Linked DNA regions of Homo sapiens: region 2 is linked to region 1. Evidence: fine-mapped expression QTL. A gene starts in region 1. The other region holds a variant in brackets. All regions are shown on one strand. Distances are from middle to middle. Region 1 holds the start of ICA1 (islet cell autoantigen 1). Region 2 overlaps ICA1 (islet cell autoantigen 1).

The links. PIP is the estimated chance that this variant, and not a neighbour inherited with it, causes the effect.
Region 2: its variant is fine-mapped to the expression of ICA1 in whole blood (INTERVAL, PIP above 0.99).

What each region holds. Positions count from the first base shown.
Region 1 is chr7:8,259,995-8,264,994 of GRCh38, forward strand. It overlaps ICA1 (islet cell autoantigen 1), which reads right to left and starts at 2,173. Exons shown (of 14, transcript NM_001136020.3): 1 at 2,100-2,173. It overlaps ICA1-AS1 (ICA1 antisense RNA 1), which reads left to right and starts at 2,231. Exons shown (of 6, transcript NR_125740.1): 1 at 2,231-2,425; 2 at 2,586-2,832; 3 at 4,597-4,686.
Region 2 is chr7:8,140,206-8,145,205 of GRCh38, forward strand. It overlaps ICA1 (islet cell autoantigen 1), which reads right to left. Exons shown (of 14, transcript NM_001136020.3): 9 at 3,670-3,767; 10 at 1,560-1,612. Among named protein-coding and RNA genes, the nearest start is that of ICA1, 120 kb to the right of the region's middle. RefSeq lists an enhancer at 3,448-3,677. The variant T/C (reference allele first, on the strand shown) is at 2,160.

The DNA of each region.
Region 1 (5,000 bases):
GGAAAAAAAGGACACTAGTGACCAGCGTGCTGATTATAAACACTGCCACCTACCCTCAGGCTCAACCAACGAAGAGGAAAAATTCATCCTGACACTTGGGGCCTGTTAACTTCCTCCCTCTCTCGCATGAGGTTTCTATAATCTTAAAAGTTCATACCAAACATAGGTTTATCCTTCTACGTTATGGCATAACTACCAGACCTCCATACCGCTAATGCTGCTTGCACCTGAAAAAAATGTACTATTTAGTCAAATACCTTGAAAACGTACTGATTTTGAAGGCTCTGAGTAACAAAATTTTCTATACTTTTCGTGAGATTGATCTTTATGCACTGCGGTAAAGATGCGTAGAGAAAGCAGTCAGATAGTTACTCAGGTGTTCCAAATGGGGGAAAATAGTTACAAAATAAACCACCCAGGCAATTACCATCCAGTATCTTTAGCACTCAATGATCCACGGGTGGAGGATACAGGGTTAACGTTTTTTAACATCAGGTCTCTCCACAAATAGCCCGCTGTAGCTTAACTGTTACGTTTTCTAAAGATTCATCTTTATAAACAGTACAATTATTTCCCTTTGTAATACAAACAGAAACAATTAGAAAGCAACATCTCCTGCAATTAAGATGTATGTACAGTATTAGTATAAAACCAAAGAGTGATATTTGAGCTATTCAGGATTATAAATTGATTTTGTCCCTGTGGTATTCTCTACAAAGGGTGTTTCAAAAATAAAGACTGAAATCTAAAAATATATCTTTGGTTTGAAAACTTACTTAAAAGCATTTTTAGAGAGTGTGTGTTTTAAACAGGGGGTATGAAATTGCATCGGGAGCCTAGATTTCAAACTAAGCATTTCTTATTTCACTCCCTAACCACAGAACAGTTCAGATCTCAGATTCAAACCAGAGGGCCACAGAAACCAATTTGAGATTTTCCGAAGAGACTTCACTGAAACGTATGGACAAAAACATGTTTGCGATGAGTCATATTTTATAGGACCTTAATGGCCAATAAATGCCTTATGTGTCTTTCTTCCTACATTCAGTATCACTCCCAAGCAAGCTGGTGACATATTTTCCAGGCCTTGATAATTTTTATACCGTTACCAGATCTCGGTTACTAAGATTCATGAACAAAACCCTTTCTTGCGCTAATTTTTTAATGCCATCTAAATGAAGAGAACGCGATTCTTTCCAAACTAACTCTCCCCAACCAGGCAGTTAATGCCCTTCGCCAGAATAAGGGCGCGATACTTTTAAGACCCCAAAGAGAAGCTCAGGTGCTTTGGGGGTACTACAAGTAAAAAGACAGTGGGAAAGGTTCCTGGAGAGCCGCTTTGGGGGAAAGGCAGACATAACAACAGGATATGTTCGTTTCTAGAGGAAGCAGGAGCTGCAATAGCCCCGGAGCAGGAAAGGCGGAGTCAGCAGCGCCCAAAGGAAACGGGCGCGCCAGGGTTTGCTGGAACCGGGGTTGCTTAGGGGTTCTCGCCCCGTCTAGTCCGAGACTGCTGAGCACCTCGCCCCCGGGGGACCAAGCTCAGGCCTCCTGGCACTAGTGGTTATAAAGAGGTACCCATATGCTCTCTGCCGCCCCTGCCAAAAAAAGGGCCACGGAGGGGAAGAGAAAAAGCACACACCAGGCGCCGCGGCAGGTGAACTTGTCAACAAGTCAACCCTGGACGCAAGTCCCTGCCCACCAGGGAGCTCGGGGTCCTGGGGCCGGAGCCGCCGGGAAGGCGAGGCGCGCGGTGGGTGGGTGGGGTGGGCTGGCATGGGTGCCGGTGCTCCCAGCGCTGGGGCCGGAGCGCGGAACGCTTCCCTACCGCTCCCCCGGGGCTGACGCACGCTCTCACGGCGCGCGCATCCTCCAGACCTTCCCAGGCCGGAGGGAGGAGGGGAGGGGAAGGGGCTGATGCGGTTCCCGCACCGGGATCCGGGACCCGAGGAGGCGACTCGCCTATCACGCGCCGCCCGCGGAGGGCAGAGAAGGCAGCTCCTACCAGGCGTCCCCGACCGTCCCGGCTGCCGGGCGTCTCCTGCTGCTTCCTGCAGCCCGCCCGGCGCGCCCCCGCCCCGACCCCGGAGGGCAGGTACCTCGGAGCCCCGGCCCCCAGGAGCCTCCCGGCCGCGGTCGGAGCGTCCCTCCGGATCACTCATCCGACGTCAGCGTCAGCCGAAGGCGAGGGAAAGGGGCGGGGGGAGCGCAGGAACCGGCCCTTCCTGCGGCGGCCGCCACCAGCCGGAATAGCAACCGGCGGAGCCCGTGCGCACCGCAGCGCAGCGCAGCGGCCGGGGGGTGCGGGCGCCCTCGCCGCCCGGCTACCTACCGCCGCCTGGGCGCCGCCGCTGCCTCCCTTCCCCGCTTCTACCCTCCAGCAGACGCCCGCCGGAGCGACCCCTCCCAGGGTGACCGGGGGAAGGTGGGTGGCGTTGACCTCACCTTGCTTGGGGAGGGTCGGGGACTCGGGGAGTGAGTTTCTCTCTCTCTACTCCCCGGGGTCTCTCCTCGACCCCCATCTCCTGGGGTATCCCCCGCTCGGATCCGCCGCCCAGAGTGACCCCGCCCCTGCTCTCCGGCAGGTGTTCCACGTGGCCATAGCGTTTGCGTCACAATGACCTGGCGGACAGGTGGGAGCCACAGCGTACACCCCAGGGTTCCCTCTGTGCTGTGCGTAGTGCCTACTGCTTGCTTCCAGGTTAAATTTCTGTAGCTTTAGAGGACAGGAGACTTCATGACTTCACTGCCAAGAAAAGTTACAGAGGCCTGCTGTACCTGGAAATCAAGTTTGAGCTTCGAGAATAAAGGTCATGTTTTAAAAACAGCTGTGTATGTATAGGTATATGTTTTTCATTTCCATATATTTCTGTATCTTTTATTTTTAAGTTATTGCCATTTGTAGCAGTTTCATCTTCTCTTATCCTTTGTCACCAGGAAAGAACCAAACCATTGTTTCTAGAGACCCTGCAGTATACAGATCACAGGAAGAAAAAGTGTTGGCATAGCTGCTTCCTAATATTATCTATGTGGAAATGAAACCTCAATGTAGTATGACTTCATCCCTAGTTATGTTATACATTTATAAATAAGTTCATTCAGTCGTCGCTGAAACAATTTAAAAGGGCCGAATGATAGTTATTGAGTAATGATGCTGACGAATCAGAAATCCTGCGCTAACATGGATGGAGTGCTAGCTCTATGTCCGGCACATGCTGTATGCTTTATATTTAATCCTTACAGCAACCCAATACTGTAGATAAAATCATTATCCCGATTTCACAGATGAAGACACTGCCCAGAGTGCCATAAAGAGATTATTGAGCAGGGATTTGAATCTGAACCAGGAGACTTAGCTTAATCTCAAGATAGCATGGTGTCTTGCCAGAATGGATGGAGAAAAAGTATAGAATATGTTGACATTTTAATAGAAAGATAATAAGATACCTCCAGAAATTTACATAACCTTTAAAGTTATTCTTTGGGGATTCTGTTTGTCATAGATTTGAGCCTGTCCTAGTCTTAACACGAATTTTGGAGCTGAGTAAACATCTCCTTAGTAAGTGTGTATGAGTAAACAAATCATGAATATGGTCTACAAAATAGCAAATTGTTGAAAAGCTAAGATTCAGGAGAAATTTTCAGAGAGAAAAGCATTGCTTATATATATTTGGCTTTTATAAAAAAAAATTCAAACTAACGTGTTAACAACGCAAGCCAAATGATTTTGCTGTAAGAAAAAAAACCCAAAGCCTTTAAAATGAGAAAGTCTTCCTTACAAAAGAAAGATGATTAAGATATGTTAAGATACATTGATTCCAAGAACTGTAAATTTATGTGTAAAAAGCTATTATCGGGAGTTAAAAGGATAAAGAGATTATTATTCTTTAACAGAATGAAGTGCCGTAATGAACATCATAGGTGCCCGATAAATGTTGACTGAGCGTTATCATCAGTTAATTGAAGCATTGAGAAAGGACTAAATCACCTGAAAAGTTTTTCCTGACTCTGTAATGTTCTCCTTTCTACCAGTTACATGAAAACTTAATCAGAAGCCCCATTGGTCAAAGGCTGGCTTTGGGGCAAATATTTAAATCTGTTACAAAACAGCCAGTAGAATGGGAGGTTGTGTGTGTGTTCAAAGTATCCCCTCAAAATGCAGATGATTGGAACAAAAGCATGAAGGGAAAAAACGGGGACAGCTGAGCTGCAACTGATTACGCAGTTTTCTTTTATGCTTTCTGAATTCCAAGGTGAAAACGATGACTGTGAGTCTAACCTGTTACAGAGGCTAAAAGTGGCTTCAAAAGCAATGTCTAAAAGAGAACAAATACATGATACAAGCATTATGTAGTCAACATGGCACTGAAATTCTTTGGGCTCCCGGAGAGTTTAGGAGAAAACCTTAACTGATTTTTCTTCATTCTAATTATTGTCCTAACACTTAGCATAATATTTGAGAAAGGAAATAATAGACAACTCCTGCTCATTCTCCATCACCACAATGAGTACTTTTCCTTCCCCTTAAATAAAATGGCTCCATCAATAACACTTGCATTTGTTTCTGAATAACCAGCTGTTGTTTCCATCTTGCAGAACACCAGTAAGGTGCTAGTGAGAACCCGAAACAGTTTCTAAGGAGAATGGCTATTGAATGATGGGATCAGAAATTAGGAGAGAAATAAGGTGCGTTTTCCAGTGTACAACAGGATGACAAAATTTTCTATGAAAAAAATCTTTACATATTCAATTCAATAATTTTTTCAAGAGCTTCCCAGATTCAAGATATGCTAATAGGACCACAAGAGTTGGATTTGTGTTAAGCTACTAACAGAGACTTGGAATAGCGGTGGATTAAATGAAATAGGGCTTTATTTTTTCTCACTTAAATTGGAAGGTAGGCAGTCTAGGGCTGGTGCGATCTCCACTGTGTCACTGGGCTGTTGCCCTTCTGTCATTCTATTCTGCCATCCTAGGCAAAGCAAGATTGCCCAAAGGTA
Region 2 (5,000 bases), 120 kb before region 1:
GATTCGTGCCGTGGGTACACTGAGGCTGGAGAGCTTGCATCCATATAGACAGAGAGCTCTTCTGTGGCCAACAAGAGCAGGCCCAGCTGCTCCCTTTCTCCTCCTGCCACTCGCTCCCCCTCATGCTCTGGAGCATGGTTTCTCTGACTTTCTCCAGGTCCTCCTGTGCCCATAACCTTTGCCCAGGCTGTTTCTTCTGCTTTGACAAGTCTTGCCATAGCACTTGGCTTAGCCAGTTCCCTGATCTCCTAAAAAAGTTGTGTCCTCTCCATCACATGTGCCCAAAGCCCTACACCTCTCCCTTGGAGCTCCCACCAAAGCTGGAGCTGCTGGATTACTTTGGTAATGATTAGATTACCATCTGCTTGCCCTTTTGACTGTCAGCCTCATCCTGGAAGGGACTATGTCTGGTGCACCACTGTATGCCCAGAGCCCAGCGCCATGCCTGGCACAGAGGCGGCTCAATAAACATCTGTTGAACAAATGAACAAGTGCATGAGTACTTGTACGTGAAGGTGTACATGTGTGAATGGATGACATGAAGCAAGCATTAGAGGCAAAAAAGTGAGTCTTTTGTTGTTGTTGTTGAAAGGCAGATAGGAGAAAAGCAAATAGGAGGAGAAGCAAGTGGGTGGAAAGGTAAAAAGGAAGATAGAGGGTGAAGGAGAAGAATGGAGCAGAGGAGAAGTTCTAGAATCTCCTTTGCCTCCTCCTATCTTCCAGGAAGGTACCACACCAGAGGGTGAAGCAGGAAGAGATGCATATGTCCCCAGGGGGACCAGGTAAACACAGTGTTGGGGTAATTTTAGTTCTCTTCATAACACCTGTAAAACATTCCCCCGCATCTCCGAGGAGCTTGAGTGCCAGTGAAGTGCTTGGTACTGTGTCACATTAATTCTACCACAATCTATCAAACCCTGTGTCCCTCTGTGAGGTGAAGGACCAATGAAAACACTGGCAGTAACAGCAGGAGACAGAAATAGCTGATGAGCCTGCACAGCACACTGTGCCATCTCCCAACGCTCTGACCCCTTCTCCTAACACATCAGGTTCAGTTCACCTGAGGGATCAGGGGTTGCTTGGCACTGGCAGGCTGAGGCATCAGCTGGCAGGGCAGGGTGAGCAGCTCCTATCTGTTTCCAACATTGACAAACATCCACCCGCCCCACACATACCGCAAATCCACCTCTCCTGAGGTCATAGCCTCATCTTATGAAAACTAGAACCAGTCAGGGTCACAGCAGAAATCTTATAATCCGCTGTGAAAAGAAACAGCGATTTGCCAGTTCCCATCGTGGCTGCCCCTCTGAAGAGCTGCTGCTGATGTGACTGTGATGTGATTTTCTGGTTCACAATACACAGCCTCTCTCAGTAATGCTGTAGGGTTGACATGGTGGATATCTGAACATTTAGAACTGAGTCTACAGGAAGCAAATTAGCCTTTTCTCAGTTGAAAAAGAAGAAAGGCCTAGGAGGAGTTTGTCAAAAAGTAAAATGACTTGGCTGTTAAGCATTAAGTAATATTTCAGAAGCAATTCTAAATAAAAATCAAAACTTACTCTTAAAACTAGAGGATTCCTTGCGCTGGTTTTCTTCCTCTAATGAAATTAATCTTAAAATAAAAAAGAGGTTTAGTCATCAACTTCTACCAATGTTATATTTATGATACAGCCAGACTTTCAGTACAATATTACTTCACTTTTAACACAAACACATACACCACACACACGCACACGAAGAAGGGTCAACATATAGTCATTTACATGCCAATTTGCTGGCCTTCTTTCCCTTTCTGTAGCATCTTAATATCTGAATTTGCTTTCATCTCGAGGCAAATATTCTGTAAATATCTAGATGGGCAGTTAGATATAAATAAGATAGACGCATACAGTTATCACCTTAAAAATAGTAAAAATTGATAGTTAAAAAAACTGTAAAAATATCAATCAGAATCCATTTCTTCTGATTCCTAGTGTTATAGGAGAGGACACCTCCAGAGGTTAGCTCGGCTACAGAGGCTGCAGGCAGGACCACTCATAAATCCAGGCTGACCATCTCCTACTCAACTCTCACCACTTCTTTAAACACAGAGACACATCACTGCCCTTGAGATTCACTTGGTGCCTCCGAGCCTTCCTCCTAGCACCGTGATGCACCTT[T/C]GTCTGCTATTTCTAAACAAAATTCACGTTCAGTGTTCACTGTCATTTTAAATAGTTACTGGGTTATACTTTGTGAGCTTTCAAAAATGAAGCACTGAAGTATTTGAGAAATCTGAATTAATTAAAACAAATCAAGAAAAATCCCAGGTAATCCACTTCCAAGTAAAGGTGAATGCTTTATTTTGATTGTATGAACTTATATGGTGAAAAGAAGGTGCAGGGACCCACTTCAGGTCTCACCTCTTACTACACAAGAGTAAGTGGGCAGCCCCTTAACCTTCCGGAACCTTCCTTCCATCTTTTACATGACAAGGAAAATCCCAGCCTTGACGTCACTGAAGGTTGTCATGAGATGGAATTAACATAAATAAAACACCTAGCATTGTATCTGGTTCATAGTAGGTGCTCACTAAAATGATAGCTAGCACTATTACCATCACCAGGAATGGGTTAAACTGGTTCACCATAAAATAGCCAGTTTTACTAGATTCAGATCACATTCTACAGTCTGTCCTTCAGTGAGAACTTGTCTTCATTCTGCATCAAAAAATTTATCTAGTACATATACTCTTTAAAATTTAAAAAGGCTAATATTGGCAGCAACTTTTCCTGTGGGACAAAAAATATATCTGAAAGTCGATTTAGAAATACAATAAAAGTATAAGCCTGTTTTACGATAAGACTGTCATCTAAATTTTTTTTGTGTGTGGAAAAGGAGTAGAGAATAGAAACGAGGCCATCCATTTTGTTTTCCTAGGTCGGCCAGTTCAAAGATTAACTGCATTCCTGCAAGCTATTATATCTCCATAGAAAATGATACAGATCCACATTTCAACCTCCTTCTCAATGTATGAGAAAGGGAACCATGCACCACATATGTTGAAAAGTTCATCTCAGTATTTAAAATGACAAGAGGCACCTTCTTTGTAAAGGGGCATGAAATGGAGATGGAGCAGTCATTTCCTGTACTTGAAGCTGTTCTCTGTTTCACAGAGAAGAAAACAGACATTCTGCATGGTAGAAAACACAGTGCCAAAATCCAACACTTTCATATGATGATGCCTTAGTATGCATGTATCCCAGGGCAATTTCATAGGTAAGCTCCCTCAGTGAGAGAAAAGCCAGGGGATTTCCTATCTAGAAGAGCATCTAGTGTTGACAAAGGACCAGATAGGGTCCAGAAACCAGAGAAAGTGCAAAGCTGGGGCTCAGGTCACAGGCAGAGAGCCAGGGAATGCTGGGGACATTTGCCCTGTCTTGTTCCAGTCAGCTCCTCACAAGTGTGCCCTTCTAAGTCCCCTGGAAACCGATCTCTTACTGGGATACGTGAGTCATGACCTAGCAGGAGCATGCGTTAAAGGGGTTTGGCTGGGATGCTAATACATCTACTCTGAGAAGTGAGGAAGTAAGACAAGTCTGCGTCTGAGGCCCAGCCAGGTTCGGTCAGCGAGAACCACATAACTCTCACCTGTGGGAAGAAAGATGCAGAGGGAAGGAACCTGTGACTTACTGGCTCGGCTCCTGCACGGCTGCATCTGTACTTTCCTGCTGGTTGATTTTCTTCTTCTCTTCTTTCTCAACTAATTTTTTCATAGGGTCTTGTAAGCTCTTGATCACGAGCCATAGAAAAATGAAAAAGAAAAAAAAAGAAGAAGAAATAGAGACAAAAAAAAGAAAAGAAAGGTTATCAATTAAAAAATTCAACTGCCATTTGTCCCAGCAACCAAACTTTGAATTACAGGTATTGGGAGGTGACCTTGAACCAATCAGCTGGAAGAAATAAAATTTTATATGGTGAAGCAACAATGTTCTCAGACACATCCGAGAAATACTAGCATATATAGCAGAGCTGATTTGCCACAAGATTTATGTTTTCCATTTTGTGATAAGTTATTCAAACGTGGCCTTTTGGCTATTGCTAACTTTATTTTTCAACTTCAACATGTAGTTAAGATAAACATTCTGTTCTGTTCGCAGCCCACACACTGACAAAGTAGAAGTTCCTCCCACCTCCACCAGAGATGAGACGATTTCATTTTGTTTTAAATTTTGTTTGCTATTTTGCAATCTAAAACCCAGTTTTAAAAAATAACAGAAAACAAAACCTTTTCTTAAAAAACCAAAAATAGTGGCTTAACATATTCTGACAACCTAACTCCCACGAGTGGACAGAGCAGGTGCATCCAAATCTTTGTAGATTAAAATGGGTGAGAGTCTTCTTTTGGCACATCATTTGTTGGAGTTACTATTTTCAAGGTTAACTAAATATTTAAGTTTTTTTTTTTAAACAGCAAGTGCCTAGAAACTGTATACCAGTGACAATGATCCTGAAAGAAAAAGCAAAACATTTCTAGAACTGAATAATGATTTATACAAAAAGATCTCTATTTCTGGCCCTAATTAAAATACAAACCTATAAATACAAAATAAACATCTCAGGATACTTATCCTTCTTATATTCTCAGAACTACTAAAATCCAAGTCATGAGCCTGGGGCCTTCACCTTGTTTCTCCTGTCCTTCTCCTGCCTATCGTTCACTTGTCTGACACACATAGGAGGCAATCAGGTTTCATGGCCAATTCTGATTGATTAGTACTGGCTGACTGGAGGGCCAGTGAAGATGGTTCTCAGGCTGTGTCTCGGCAGAGCAGACCTGTGATTGATTTTGGTGTCTGCCATGGACACCAGATGGATACTGGTGTCACACTTCCAAACTGCCAGCTCTGTTTCTCTCTCTGCACAGAGTAATTTTCCTAAAACACCCACGTCATCATGTTATCCTTCTTTTCAAGAATCTTATTTCTTGAGAAGGACCAGCGTATTTCTTTATTGTAAGAACT